Regions from separate parts of the Homo sapiens genome. Here regions 2, 3 and 4 are each reported to be linked to region 1. The links are microRNA targets in miRTarBase. Many come from high-throughput screens and were not tested one by one. Region 1 holds a microRNA gene; each other region holds the end of a gene's coding sequence.

Region 1 (3,118 bases):
CATGAGTTGTACTCAACTGTTATCCAACATATCTTGGAGCATGCACCAGGATGCTCCCTGACACAGCTCACTTTGCAAGTAATTCTTAGACACACACTTTCTCCACCAGGCCTGTCTAGTTGAAGTTCTCTATATCCCTGCCCCCCTCCCCACCCTGGTTAAGCATAGGACTTCCATGGTTACATCCCATTTATTCCTTTCCCAAACATGCTTAATGCATTTCATCTCCAGTTACAAACATCGTCTGCTAATGAACAATGTAGATAGTTACCATGTTGTATAAATAGTTACTTATTTCCCTTCGTTGTTGGTTTTATCCAATAAACTAGCCCGATCAGCTTCATTTTATATCACCTTATCTCATACAGATGAGAAACTGTATGTATTTCAGCCTGTCTAAACTGGAGGTAACGCTAGACTGCAGTATCCCTGCACAGTGTCGTATTAGAAATGGCACCCTATAAATTTTTTATGAGTTAATAATGATTGTGATCCCATTCCTATTTTCTACAAGTTCTTCTGTTATGGTGGCAATTAAATAGCCTCACCTTCCTTTCACTTTCTGCAAACCTGCTGCAAGTCATCATTAACTTTCTTAATTGGTAGCGGCTCTGAATTCCAGTCTTTCAGAGTTCCCGTAAACAGCATCTTTCTTAATACTTATGTCATAATGTTTTTCTCCTTTCCTTGCATTTCATTCTGCCTTTGGGCAGGAACAGCATCATTTCCTGCTCTTCTGGGGTTTCAACACTGACTGCAAAGCACCCTTGCTCATCTCACTGGGAGATTCTGCAGCCAAGCAGAGATTTGCATAAAGCCCATCCACCCTTCACCAGCACAGGATACGCAGACTTAACTGCAGGGACTCTTGGTGACTAGTCTCTGTGGTGCACACTCTCCACCCTACCACCAAAAAGGTCCCCAGTACCCTAAAAGGAACTATGTACTCAAATATCACCTCAAATAAGATGAGGTCTTTCTGAGAGAAAAGAGATGTTGATGCACGTGACGGGGAGGGCATAGGAGAGGGTTGATATAAAATGCAATTACAGCCTCTTATGCTTTCCAAAGTGGGGGATGATTCAATGATTCCTGACTGGTCCACAGCCATATATCAATTGAGGTTATAATACTAATTTGAATTGCAAATCTCTGAAAAGAAGGGGACAAGCTAAGGAGATAAAATTTAACAGGGTGAGTCCTGAATTTAGATTTAAACAAACTCCACAAGTATAAGAAGGCAGAGGCTGGCAACAGTACTTGCTGTCATGTTTAGTCGGCCACTGGTCAGTCTGAGACAGCAGTGGGTGTGATCGTGTAGCAGCTATGGAAAGCTTATGCTGCATTTAATAATAATAGTCATACTTTAAAGCATGTTTCAGTTATGAATTCATTCTGACCAGAAAAGTAACTTGCACTAGCTTAACAGTCAAATAGCAAGAAGCATAGAGAAGTGGCCGCTTGCTGTGCTTCAGCAGCTCAACAGTGTCTCTATTCTCTTAGCCTCTTCCTCCTGCTTGCCACCTCTCAGTCACAAGACGGCTGCTGCGACTCAGGCTCATGTCCCAATTCAAGGCAGCAAGAAGGCCATGGAGCGGCACCTGCCAGGTATGTCCCTTTCCCAGGCATCCCCAGCAGATTTCTCACTGTCTGAAACTGCATCCCACGGCGTTCTTAGGTGCGAGGCTGGTCTGGAGAGTCAATGCTTGGGTTTTCCAATACCTGCATGGGACATGGGCAAGATGGAAGGGAGTTGGGTTTAGGAAACCAGTAGTGCCAGCCCTTTACTCGTATCATATCTGATCCCCACAGCAACCCTGAGGAGTAGCTATTTATCATCCTTATTGAGCAAATGAAGAAAATCAGAACCAGCAACATCAAGAAAAAATGAGGAAAGACATACATTAGTAAATAATAAAGCCAGGGTTCCAATTCAGATCAGGTTGAATCCAAAATTCCTCTCCCTGCCATTATAACGCATCACAGTGTTCAGGTCATGTGGGTCTGGGAAGGATGAATCATATTCAACTATCCCACCACGTTTTTGGCCATTTTTTAAAAACTAAAGTATAACACACATCTTGTTATGTTAACACTGACATCTTGAGAATATTAAATCTTCCAATCCATGAACATAGACTGTTTTTACATTTATTTGGTTTCTTCTTTGATTTATTTCAACAAAGCTTTGTAGTTTTCACAGTATAAGTTTTGTACATCTTTGTTAAATTTACTTCTAAGTATTTTAGAATTTTTATCTTAAGTGAAATTACTTTCTTAATTTCATTTTTGGTTTGCTCATTGCTACTGTATACAATACAATTAATATTTGTACATTGCTCTTAATCCTGTAACCTTGCCGGACCTTATTCATTTTAAGTTTGTTCTTTGAATATGTGAAACATTAAAAAGATTTTAAAAGCCAGAACTATACACAAAGGTATTGTCCTTGTAATTTTATATCTGATTGGAAGAATTCTCCACAGACTAGCTTCTGGCGATGTACTTTTCAAACCTTGTTTTTCTCCACTACCCATATATTTTCATGCGAATTCTGGGTACTAGGAGATACAGTCATACCACAGTATGACCTCTGGTCCTGGACTTTAGTGTCACAATGCTGTTTGAGTTAGTCAGTAAGCCATAGGAGTATTCCTGGAAGTCATTTCTACACTGGGGTGCCCAGTAATAACTTAACCATGTGTTGAAGTTACTGAAAACCACATCATTATAACCTACTCCACCAAAACTAAATATAGCTATAACTCAATTTCCCCTTAGCTGGGTCTCCAAAATGCCCAGTAACACCTGACGCAAGGGGATGTGATGGAAGGGAGGCTGAAGTGAAGGTACAGCAGACTTAACTAGTTGTAGTAAAGATACTTTACCTCTGAACATTTACGAAACATATGACCATGTGAACACAATTCTGGGTCCCCTCTGGGGCCTCGGAAGAAGGTGTCAGTGCTAGTGAGGGGCTCTAAAAGTGAAAACTTCATTAAATTCATTGCAAATCCACCTTTCTACTCCAATTCTCAGTTGTGTTCCTTTATTTGCAAAATACAAATAATATTTGCTTTGCCTATTTGAAAGGTTATTGTGATATATAATGAAATTT
Region 2 (3,118 bases), not on the chromosome of region 1:
AGAGTCTGAAATGATTGGGGTTAGCAAGACATCCCATTTTCTTCATAGAGTAAATGATTCAGCCCACCCATGTTCCATTTTTTTCTCATCCTACCAGTGACTGAAAAAGTCTACGAGAGTGAATCCTGCACAGATAGTGAAGAGGAGCTTAACATGAAGACATCCTCAGTACACAGACCCCCTGCCATGACTGTGAAAAAAGAACCCAGAGAGGAACGAAAGGGCCCCAAGAAAGGGACTGCTGCTCTGGGCAAAGCCAACAGACAGGTGTCCATTACTGGCTTCTTCCAGAGGAAATAAACTGCCATCTCTGGTAGATCAGAGACTTGGAGTGGTCAAGGGAGAAGACCAAGAAATGTACTCCTCACTTACTATGTAAGTTCATCTAGATCTCCACCTCACCTGTATCAAAAGACTGTTCTTTCATCCTGTGAGGTTTATACTATTTCTGGTTTTTAACCAAAAGGAAATCATCTGGAAGCAGGAGGCAAAAAGCTGTTACCTTCTAATGACATTTAAAAAGCACAGTCTTTGACCTGTCCAGGAGAAGGATTTACTCCAAAATTATACTGGAACAGTTTTCAGAATTCTCACTGAAGCCATTTAGTGGCTAACCCACTGTGCTCCACTCACCCTATGCCCTGGTCCGCATATGGCACAGGAATTATTCCTTCTTGTTCCTCTGTATTCTAAGAATTCATGTGGGTGTTTCTTATCCTTACATTCTGCTGGATACGTTTACCCCTCTTGTCTTCCTGCAGTACCACACTTCTGTCCCCTAACCTCCTGAGGCTGTTCTCTGTAAGTCTTTTAAGTTTTGGTTGGACTAAAGGCTGAAGTGAAAATCTCCCTGTAATCCTCTTCCTCCATTATGCAGTACACGGACACCTGGCTACAGACCAGGACGTGGCTTGTGTTCTGTTCCTTTCACAAAAGCTCTCTGGGACCTTCACTTGCAATTAGTGGTTAGGGAAAAGCCTCAGGCAGAACACAAATAGAAATTTAATGATGTGTTCAACTCCACCAGAAATTACCTCGAGTCAGCATTGACGATATTGGAGGAGCTGCCGTGCTGCTGATACGGGGTGTGCTTTATGCTGCTCTTTGCGGTTTGTTGATCCCCTCCTCCCCCACTCTCAATACCTAGAGAGTGAAACCCGTACAATGAGATAAAGACTAAAAAGAGAAATCCCTTCCTATATACAGTGTGCTACATTTACAAAAAATTTCTCCTTAAGAAAACAGAATATTCAAAAACAGCACTTTTCCAGGAAGTTAGTGAGGAAGATAAGGCACACATTTATTTATAAATGGATGTTGCTCCTTTGTATTTTTAGCTTCCCTATTTGCTTAAAAGTACAGGCTCCCTAAGAGAGGATGGAGAGGGAGAGACTGAATTGTTAGTAGGTCTAAACATCAAAGAAAACATTTTTATTAGTTACTTATGGAAAATCATCTATTACAATGATAACCTTCAAGTGACTTCCATTATGGCTGGACAGGCGGTGAGCTCAGTGGATTGCAGTGGTGTGCTGGTGATTTTGCACAGTGAGCTCTGCGGAAGGGGTCAGGCTCAACTGCTGATGTGTCTCACACGTAGCAGACAAGGGGTGTCTGACTGGCTTCTTTTGCCTCAAGATGGTGTATGTCGTAAGTGATGCAATCAGCTGTCTGCTTTTTAAGGTTGGGATTGTGCTGACTTTGGGATTAACATGAGCTTCTTTAGCAACCAAGCATGAACTTGATTAAGACCAGAAGTTTGGGAGATGAGTCCTGGCATTATGTCTAGGACTAAAGCAGTGGCTTTGTATAGCAAGCTGAGTAAAGGTTGACATATTCCAAAACCCTTCTTTTTAAAAGGAAAAAGGATGGAGAGAAGGATGGAAAGCCTGGACTTAAACCTTTAGAAAAAACTTCTGGAGAGAAATCCCTTTTAAACAGTTACTTTTGTCATTGCCTCTGGTCATTTGTCTAAATAGGAATGGAAAATTAAAAGAAAAGCAACAATCCAATCTTTTTTCTAAAAATTATGCTGGGGTCTCGACTAAAACTGAATTTGAATTGGAAAATTCTGGTGTTGGTTGGAGTTCCATCTTGCAAGGGATAATACAAATCCTATGATCTCTATGCCCAATATGCTGCCTCAACTCTGAGCTGTCTGCAAGGCTTAGTAAGTATTGAGTGGTGTTTTTTTTTTCTTTTTATACAATACCATGTTAACCACATGAGTTAAATAAATTTGAGAAGTTGTTTTAAAACAGTGCTTCAAACTGAGTATCTGATGAGTCTCTTATTTGATGGATGGTAACAGTGTTGCAATTATTTAAGCTCTGAATGGGAAGAAGGCTGGTTTTCAGTTGATATTGTTAAAACTGCATACCCACAGTCTGAGATGAACAAGTTATTTGCTGCCTTCATCGTTTTTTTCAGCACTGGGGAAATGTTAGTTTCAGCCAACCTCATTTTTTAGTTCATCTAGAAGAAAATCTAGCACATTGTATTAGTTTGGCTTCATCACTTGCTAGCTGTATGACTGTGGGCAAGTTTCACAGCCTCAAGTTCTTTATCAAAATAAAACTAAAATGAGTTACCAAGGGTGTCAAGACTAAAGTCAAGTGTATGTAGCATGAATTCGGTCCATGTTGGCGGTCACATACGCGCTCTACAAAATGGTGGCTTTCTTTCTGATGTCATAAGTGATGTAATCAGCTAGCAGCTTCCTGAAATGTTATCAGTTATACGACCCAGGTGGTATATTCTTCAGTCATTCTGGCTGTACATGTAGTAAAAAGGGGAAGATAGTTGTCCTATTTCATGAAAGGTTTAAAGAGAGTAGATATTTTCCTACTGAAGGAATTATAGATGCCTATATTTACTGTTCATTTATTGTGTATCTACTATGTGTCAAGCCCATGACCTGGGGACTAGAGGATATAATAGAAACCATAGAATTTGGCACTTGATCCTCACAATTTAGTGGAAGGGAAAGCCAGTAAAATGAAATGACAGTGCCATATGTGAGTGCAATGTACAGGGTCCTCCAAGAGTTCCCAGGAGGATGGGTATCAAGGCAGTCTTCCTGGAGCAAGCAGTTCTTTGAATGATGAGCAGGATTTCA
Region 3 (3,118 bases), not on the chromosome of region 1:
TAAGGGCTCTGTACACATCAAATCTCTAGAAGCCAAGAAATCCTGGGTGAAGAGACTGGTGTCACCAGCTTGAGGGGAGTCTCAAAACCTGTCATATTTTAGTATTCCCTCCCAGCCATCATCACTGTCAACGGCAGAGAGGTAAGCCCCTTCTATTTCAGGATAGGAGTTCTAAGTTAGAGTCTCCACTTCTAGATTTCCTAGGACAAACCATTTGTGATAAGGTCAAGTGGGAAGGAGTTAATTTCACAGGAACAAGTGACCTTTCCCCATTCCCCACCCCCTTCCTACTCCCCTATGTGAAGATCCCACTGACATCCAACCACACCATTCCTCAACCCAGAAAGATCCTCTTTATTTATAGACTCCATAAAAGCTTTTTAAGTCTCCTATTTCCCAAGAGAGCTTTGGAATGTCAGTCCACTGCCCTGGTTCTAGCCCTCCCCTCTCTCCACCCCCAGTAAGACCTGGAGTCCCTGCTACCACGTGTCTGACCTCCCAAGCCTTTCCTATGCGGTGTTCAGGCTCCCCCTGCTGCTGAAATAGGAAAACTTCATATTGTTCCCTTTGAGAATAAGGGAATCTTTCCTAATTCCTTTGGCCTTGACCTACCCCCACCCCACTACTGTGACTTTGCCTTCAGATCTCCCTAAAATGAACTAACCAAACCAGAGGCCAGAGTTACAAGAGAATCTGTAAGAGGGTCCTCCTCCTCTAAAGAGAGGTAGTCCCAGAATAATAGAAGCAATCAAGGAAAGAAGTGGTAAAAGAAGATACAAACTTTTAGTAAAGGGGAATGACCAGGTGAAGTACAAATGCCATCTATCCAAGCCTGGCTCACGTTGCAAGTCGCACCAGCAGCAGATAATTAGTTATGATGCTCCTCCCCACCCCACTCTCCCAGAATTGATACCTGAGGTAGCTCAGGTGAAGTCCGGGGCTCCTGTGGGTCTCCACCTCCACATCACTGCTGGGTTCTGAGCAGGAAAAAAACAGAGACTTGGGTGGAAGAAGGAGTAAGAGTGGAGGACTATGGGGTGGTTGTCACAAGAAATCTGACAAAACGGCAAAGCTTCGAGAACGTGAGGATTTCCTCAGGGTTCAAACTGAACTTCACCTGTCCAAGGGAGAAGTTGCCAGTAAGAAGAGTAAAACTAATTCGGAGGGACTGGGAGGAGGGGTTGGAAAACCAGCCCTGAGTGAACAAAGAGTGCGGGGCGCCCTGCCTCAAGATGAAAGAGGATGTGAGGGTCAGAGCACCGCCAAGGGCTGGAGTTAGTAATGGCTAGTGAGGAACCTCAAAAAGGCAGCGTCTGACAGTGCATTGGGATGGCCGATTAGACTTGAAGGCAGTGATTGTGACGCTTCCCAACACCCTAGAGTTTGCGAAAGAAGTCCTAGGAGTTTTCCCGCAGCAAGTCTTCTAGCTTGGCAGGTTCCGTGCAGTGCCGCCGGCGCTCAGCCGTGGGCTACGTGAATGGGACACTAAGGGCGCGCGAAGTGAAGCGGGGAGCTGGAGCTCCAGGTGTCATCAAGCTGAGGGGATGGGCAGGGTTGTGACGTCACGAAGCTGGCGTTTGCTCGCGATGCGGGGTCACTCAGAAAAGGGGCACTGCCCTGGGGTGTGAGGACGAGCCAGCTCGGTTCTGGGGGGCCTTCTGTGGCCTGGCCGAGCCCAGCCGCTGGGCCGGCCCCGACTCCTCCCCTCCGGGCGCGGCCTCCACCTAAGTCTCCCGCCTCCCTCACCTGCCGCCGCCGCCGTAGTTGCTGCTGCCGCCTGCCGGTCCTCTAGCTTCGACAAAGAGCCGCCTACCCGATCGCTCTTCCGCTTCCTGCGGAAGAAGTGACGCTCTAGCCAGCAGACCCGGAACCATACTCTATGGTGTATGAAGTACGCGTGCGACATGCCGCAGGGCGTTCCCAGCACGCTTTGCGTGTCACTATGGCAACCCAACCCAAAGGCACGACATGGTCTAAGCGGTAGTCGCCAAGGCAGCCCTCCTGGAAAGGGGCGGTACCAGCATTGGCCCCTAATAACCCGCGAAACCTAAAACCTGCCTCCAGAGACGTACCATATCCCATCCAACTCCAGCGAGATGCAAACCACACCACGTAACCCGGGCTGTTGCCTTTATAGCTTTGATACCCTCCATAGCACAGGTAGTGACAGGGCAAACTCTAATGACAGAAAACCCCCACCCGATGGAACCATAAAAAACATAATAGACAAGATGATTTAATTCTTCAGCTAAAACAGCGGAAGAGGTGATTTATTATATGGTTGTTACACTCGGCCACAAATAAACACAGAAATAGTCCAGAATGTCACAGGTCCAGGGCAGAGGACCAACATGGGCATTTTGTTTATGAGCAAGGTGGGTCTCAGAGGTGATCGGCGATCAGAGGGCGATGAAGTTCTAGATCCATTGAGACAAGCTCTAGACAGTAGCATGCAGTCCCACAACTTGTACCAGCATCCCCAGCGTCTGGCATTCCATGTTTCTGCTCCTGTGGCCTCCACGGTGCAACAAGCTAGCGGTTTACTTGGACCTCTGCCTCATCTTTCTTCTTTTGCGCTTCAGCCTGAAAAGCAGACACAGGAATGGAATACACCTCAAACCAGAGTTGCCTTTCCCTCCCACATTAAATCAAACGTCCACATAAAGAATGAGGTGGTAAAATGAACAAGCACTACGGTTCTATCGTTCTCTGTTCTGTTAAATCCTGGCTCCAGGGAGAAAACACTCAAACGTTTTTCTCCTAAAGATCTTTTAAGATTTCCAAACCAAATGTTTCTCCTAAGTTTTGTCCAAGGAACTTCCCTCCTCCTGGGCTGGCAAAGTCTCAACGTACCTGCGCATTCGCTTCTTCCTCCACTAGCAACCGATCACAAGCAGCAGATAATTAAAAAAAAAAAAAAAAAAAAGGGATGAAGCTTATTAGTAGGCTTAGCAAGGATATGAAATGCACTCTTTAGAACCGGACAGATTCTTAACCAAGAAGTATGAAAGATTGGTCGTAACAACTACATCAGTAACTTGGACACCCTCCCAACATAAGATCAGAATTCCACCCTTTTCTAAGCCCACCCTCTCTACCCATAGCACTTAACCGCTAG
Region 4 (3,118 bases), not on the chromosome of region 1:
TACAGGCGCCCGCCACCACTCCCGGCTAATTTTTTGTATTTTTAGTAGACAGGGTTTCACCGTTTTAGCCAGGATGGTCTCGATCTAACCTCGTGATCTGCCCTCCTCAGCCTCCCAAAGAGCTGGGATTACAGGCGTCAGCCACCACGCCCGGCCTGCCTCCTACTCTTTACTCCTCACCAGATACTCTGACTTAGATGGATAAGGAAAGTTTCTTTTCAGCCAAACTTCATTCCAATCTTAATCCATCAAAGTGATTATTTAGACGCTCTTTACCTTGGTTCTGCCACTCCAGACACACTCTTCTAATAAAACTGTTATAGACAACAAAAAGTATTAGGCATCTTCTATGTGTAAACATCCTCAGAACATGAGACTGTTTGTGATTGGGAATTTCCAAGTTGTTTCTGAATTTCAGTAACCCTCCCCCAACAACCAGCCCCTAGAGTGCCAATGCCTACCTCCTCCCCTGGAGCTGAGGCCCCAGCTCTACATCTCCTGCATCGCCTAATAGATGAGGACAAAAAAGATGAGTGGCCAGTGGGCACTAATGACAAGTGGATGAAATTAGGTCTCAGAATTATACATTTCTGAGGCATATTGATTTTATTCTTGTCACCTGGGGAAAAGAATCTACATAAGAGGCAGAGTGGCCGGGTGCAGCAGCGTACACCTGTAATCCCAGCACTTTGGGAGGCCGAGACAGGTGGATCACCTGAGCTTGGGAGTTCAAGACCATCCTGGCCAACATGATGAAACCCTGTCTCTACTAAAAATACAAAAATTAGCTGGGCATGGTGGTGCGTGCCTGTAATCCCAGCTACTTGGGAGGTTGAGGCAGGAGAATCGTTTGAACCAGGGAGTTGGAGGTTGCAGCGAGCTGAGGTCGCACCACTGCACTCCAGCCTGGCAACAGAGCAAGACTCTGTCTCAAAAAAAAGAGGCCAGGTACAGTGGCTTACACCTGTAATCCCAACACTTTGGGAGGCTGAGGTGGATGGATCTCTTGAGCTCAGGAGTTCAAGGCCAGTCTGGGTAACATGTCAAAACCCCATCTCTACAAAAATACAAAAATTAGCTGGGCATGATGGTGAGTGCCTGTAATCCCAGCTACTCGGGAGGCTGAGGCAGGAGAATCGCTTGAACCAGGGAGTCAGAGGTTGCAGTGAGCCAAGACTGTGCCACTGCACTCCAGCCTGGCAACAGAGCAAGACTCCATCTCAAAAAAAAAAAAAAAAAAAAAAAAAAAGAGGCCGGGTGCAGTGGCTCACACCTGTAATCCCAACACTTTGGGAGGCCGAGGCAGATGGATCTCTTGAGCTCAGGAGTTCAAGGCCAGTCTGGGTAACAAGCCAAGATCCCATCTCTACAAAAAATATAAAAATTAGCCAGGCGTGATGGCATGTGCCTGTAGTCCCAGCTACTCAGGAGGCTGAGGTGGGAGATCACTTGAGCCTGGAAGGTCAAGGCTGCACTGAGCTGAGGTCATACCACCGCACTCCACCCTGGATGACAGAGCAAGATTATCTCAAAAAAAAAAAAAAAAGAGTCTATGTGAGAAACCAGTCTTCCTAACCACCTGCTTAATTGAGGGAATGAAGGAAGTAAATCTATTTAGGGATTTTAAAGACCTCTGCTGTCTTACTGATAGACTTTGCTCCATCTGCAAGAAAAACACAACCTCCTTTTTTAAGTAGAACTTCTCTTTTTTTTTGAGACAGAGTCTCGCTGTTGCCCAGGCTGGAGTGTGCAATGGCGCGATCTAGGTTCACTGCAAGCTCTGCCTCCCGGGTTCACACCATTCCCCTGCCTCAGCCTCCCGAGTAGCTGGGACTACAGGCGCCCGCCACCACGCCAGGCTAATGTTTTTTTTGTGTGTGTATTTTTAGTAGAGACAGGGTTTCACGGTGTTACCAAGGATGGTCTCAATCTCCTGACCTCCTGATCTGCCCATCTTGGCCTCCCAAAGTGCTGGGATTACAGGCGTGAGCCACCACACCCGGCTGGGGCTTCCCTTTCAAAGCCATCCATCATCTCGTTTCCTTGTTGATTTTTTTAAGTAATAAATATTTATCTTAATTAGGACAACCAATGAATTTGCCATGTAATCAACACTGTCAGGTTCTTACCTATTAACAAGATCTTACTTAAATCTATAAGGCCCTTTAACACCAAGGTCTTTAAGGAGTTAGAATCTTTTAAAAATAATATTTAAATTTATTGTTTCACATTAGTTTGAATAAAGCACAAGCCAAGATGGTTTAAATATCATTTGCAGATGTCCAAGCTTCTTTACAATTACAGGTCATGGGCATCATCAACCTAGTCCTTGACTTGCAGCTAAAAAAGGCAAAAGGTCTGTGTGAAGTGACAGAAGAGCACACCCTACTCATGTCATGAGCAAGGAATCAAAGTCGAAGAACAGTAACAGTCTTGACATCAGCACTGTAAGAATTACTCTGCAGTAAACTCCAACCCAGAATGGGGAAGAATACTGAATTAGCTGAGCACATTCTGGACACAATTCTGACCAATTTCAGTCTCATGATCTCTGTTGGAGCAGGTTTCATTCTCCAATTCTCTTTTACAGAACAGCAGAACTCGAGCCTTCATAAAAGTGATTAACGGCCTTTCCGCTTCTTCATTTTTCCTCCAGCCACCTTGTTCCTGACACCAATAGCACCCTCTGTGTCATCATTATCTCCAGCATCCTCTCGCGAGCGTTTCTTCTTTTCTCCATGCTCCCTTAACTCCTGCAAGAAAAAAAGAGAGGATGGGATTGAAAATGAATTACTGGCACTGAAGGTTACTCATTCTAGTCCCCTCTCCTTAAGATCAAGTATCAAGTAACTTGCTGATGCCTGACATTAGCAAAGGAACAAGACCCAACTCCAAATATACAAAGATGTTAACCTTATTAGTAATCAAAACGTGAACACTAAAGTAAGGTTTTATTTTCACATGGCAGATTGGCAAAGACTTAAGAGAAGGGTAATCCCCAGTATTGGCCAAGGTGTAGAAAAATTCACATATACTCTCATTTATAGTGCAATCTGCTATAGCTTTTCTTGGGGCGGGGGACAATTTGGCATTCTGTATGAATTCAAATTTTAACTGT

Evidence for each region. Region 1 holds the annotated microRNA hsa-miR-3945 (AGGGCAUAGGAGAGGGUUGAUAU, at 1,015-1,037, shown strand). A microRNA usually pairs through its seed, bases 2 to 8, with sites in the 3' UTR of a target mRNA and lowers its output. Matches are read on the target gene's strand: a 7mer-m8 pairs with bases 2 to 8, a 7mer-A1 pairs with bases 2 to 7 and ends in A, and an 8mer does both.
Region 2: the mRNA of POLD3 is a reported target of hsa-miR-3945. Seed matches in the 3' UTR shown: 7mer-m8 at 636-642 and 8mer at 2,126-2,133.
Region 3: the mRNA of RPL41 is a reported target of hsa-miR-3945. Seed matches in the 3' UTR shown: 7mer-A1 at 2,353-2,359.
Region 4: the mRNA of DDX47 is a reported target of hsa-miR-3945. Seed matches in the 3' UTR shown: 7mer-A1 at 2,309-2,315.

What each region holds. Positions count from the first base shown.
Region 1 is chr4:184,848,985-184,852,102 of GRCh38, reverse strand. MIR3945 (microRNA 3945) reads left to right here and starts at 993; the gene lies at 993-1,090. It overlaps MIR3945HG (MIR3945 host gene), which reads left to right. Exons shown (of 3, transcript NR_132989.1): 2 at 1,504-1,608. RefSeq lists an enhancer at 1,474-1,543 and a silencer at 2,612-2,681.
Region 2 is chr11:74,640,467-74,643,584 of GRCh38, forward strand. It overlaps POLD3 (DNA polymerase delta 3, accessory subunit), which reads left to right. Exons shown (of 12, transcript NM_006591.3): 12 at 98-2,610. The coding sequence ends at 300. Among named protein-coding and RNA genes, the nearest start is that of POLD3, 49 kb to the left of the region's middle.
Region 3 is chr12:56,116,947-56,120,064 of GRCh38, reverse strand. It overlaps RPL41 (ribosomal protein L41), which reads right to left. Exons shown (of 3, transcript NM_001035267.2): 2 at 2,854-2,876; 3 at 2,098-2,583. The coding sequence ends at 2,541. ZC3H10 (zinc finger CCCH-type containing 10) reads right to left here and starts at 1,799. Exons shown (of 3, transcript NM_032786.3): 1 at 1,747-1,799; 2 at 914-977. RefSeq lists a silencer at 2,075-2,124.
Region 4 is chr12:12,829,058-12,832,175 of GRCh38, reverse strand. It overlaps DDX47 (DEAD-box helicase 47), which reads right to left. Exons shown (of 12, transcript NM_016355.4): 12 at 2,195-2,753. The coding sequence ends at 2,622. Among named protein-coding and RNA genes, the nearest start is that of DDX47, 17 kb to the right of the region's middle.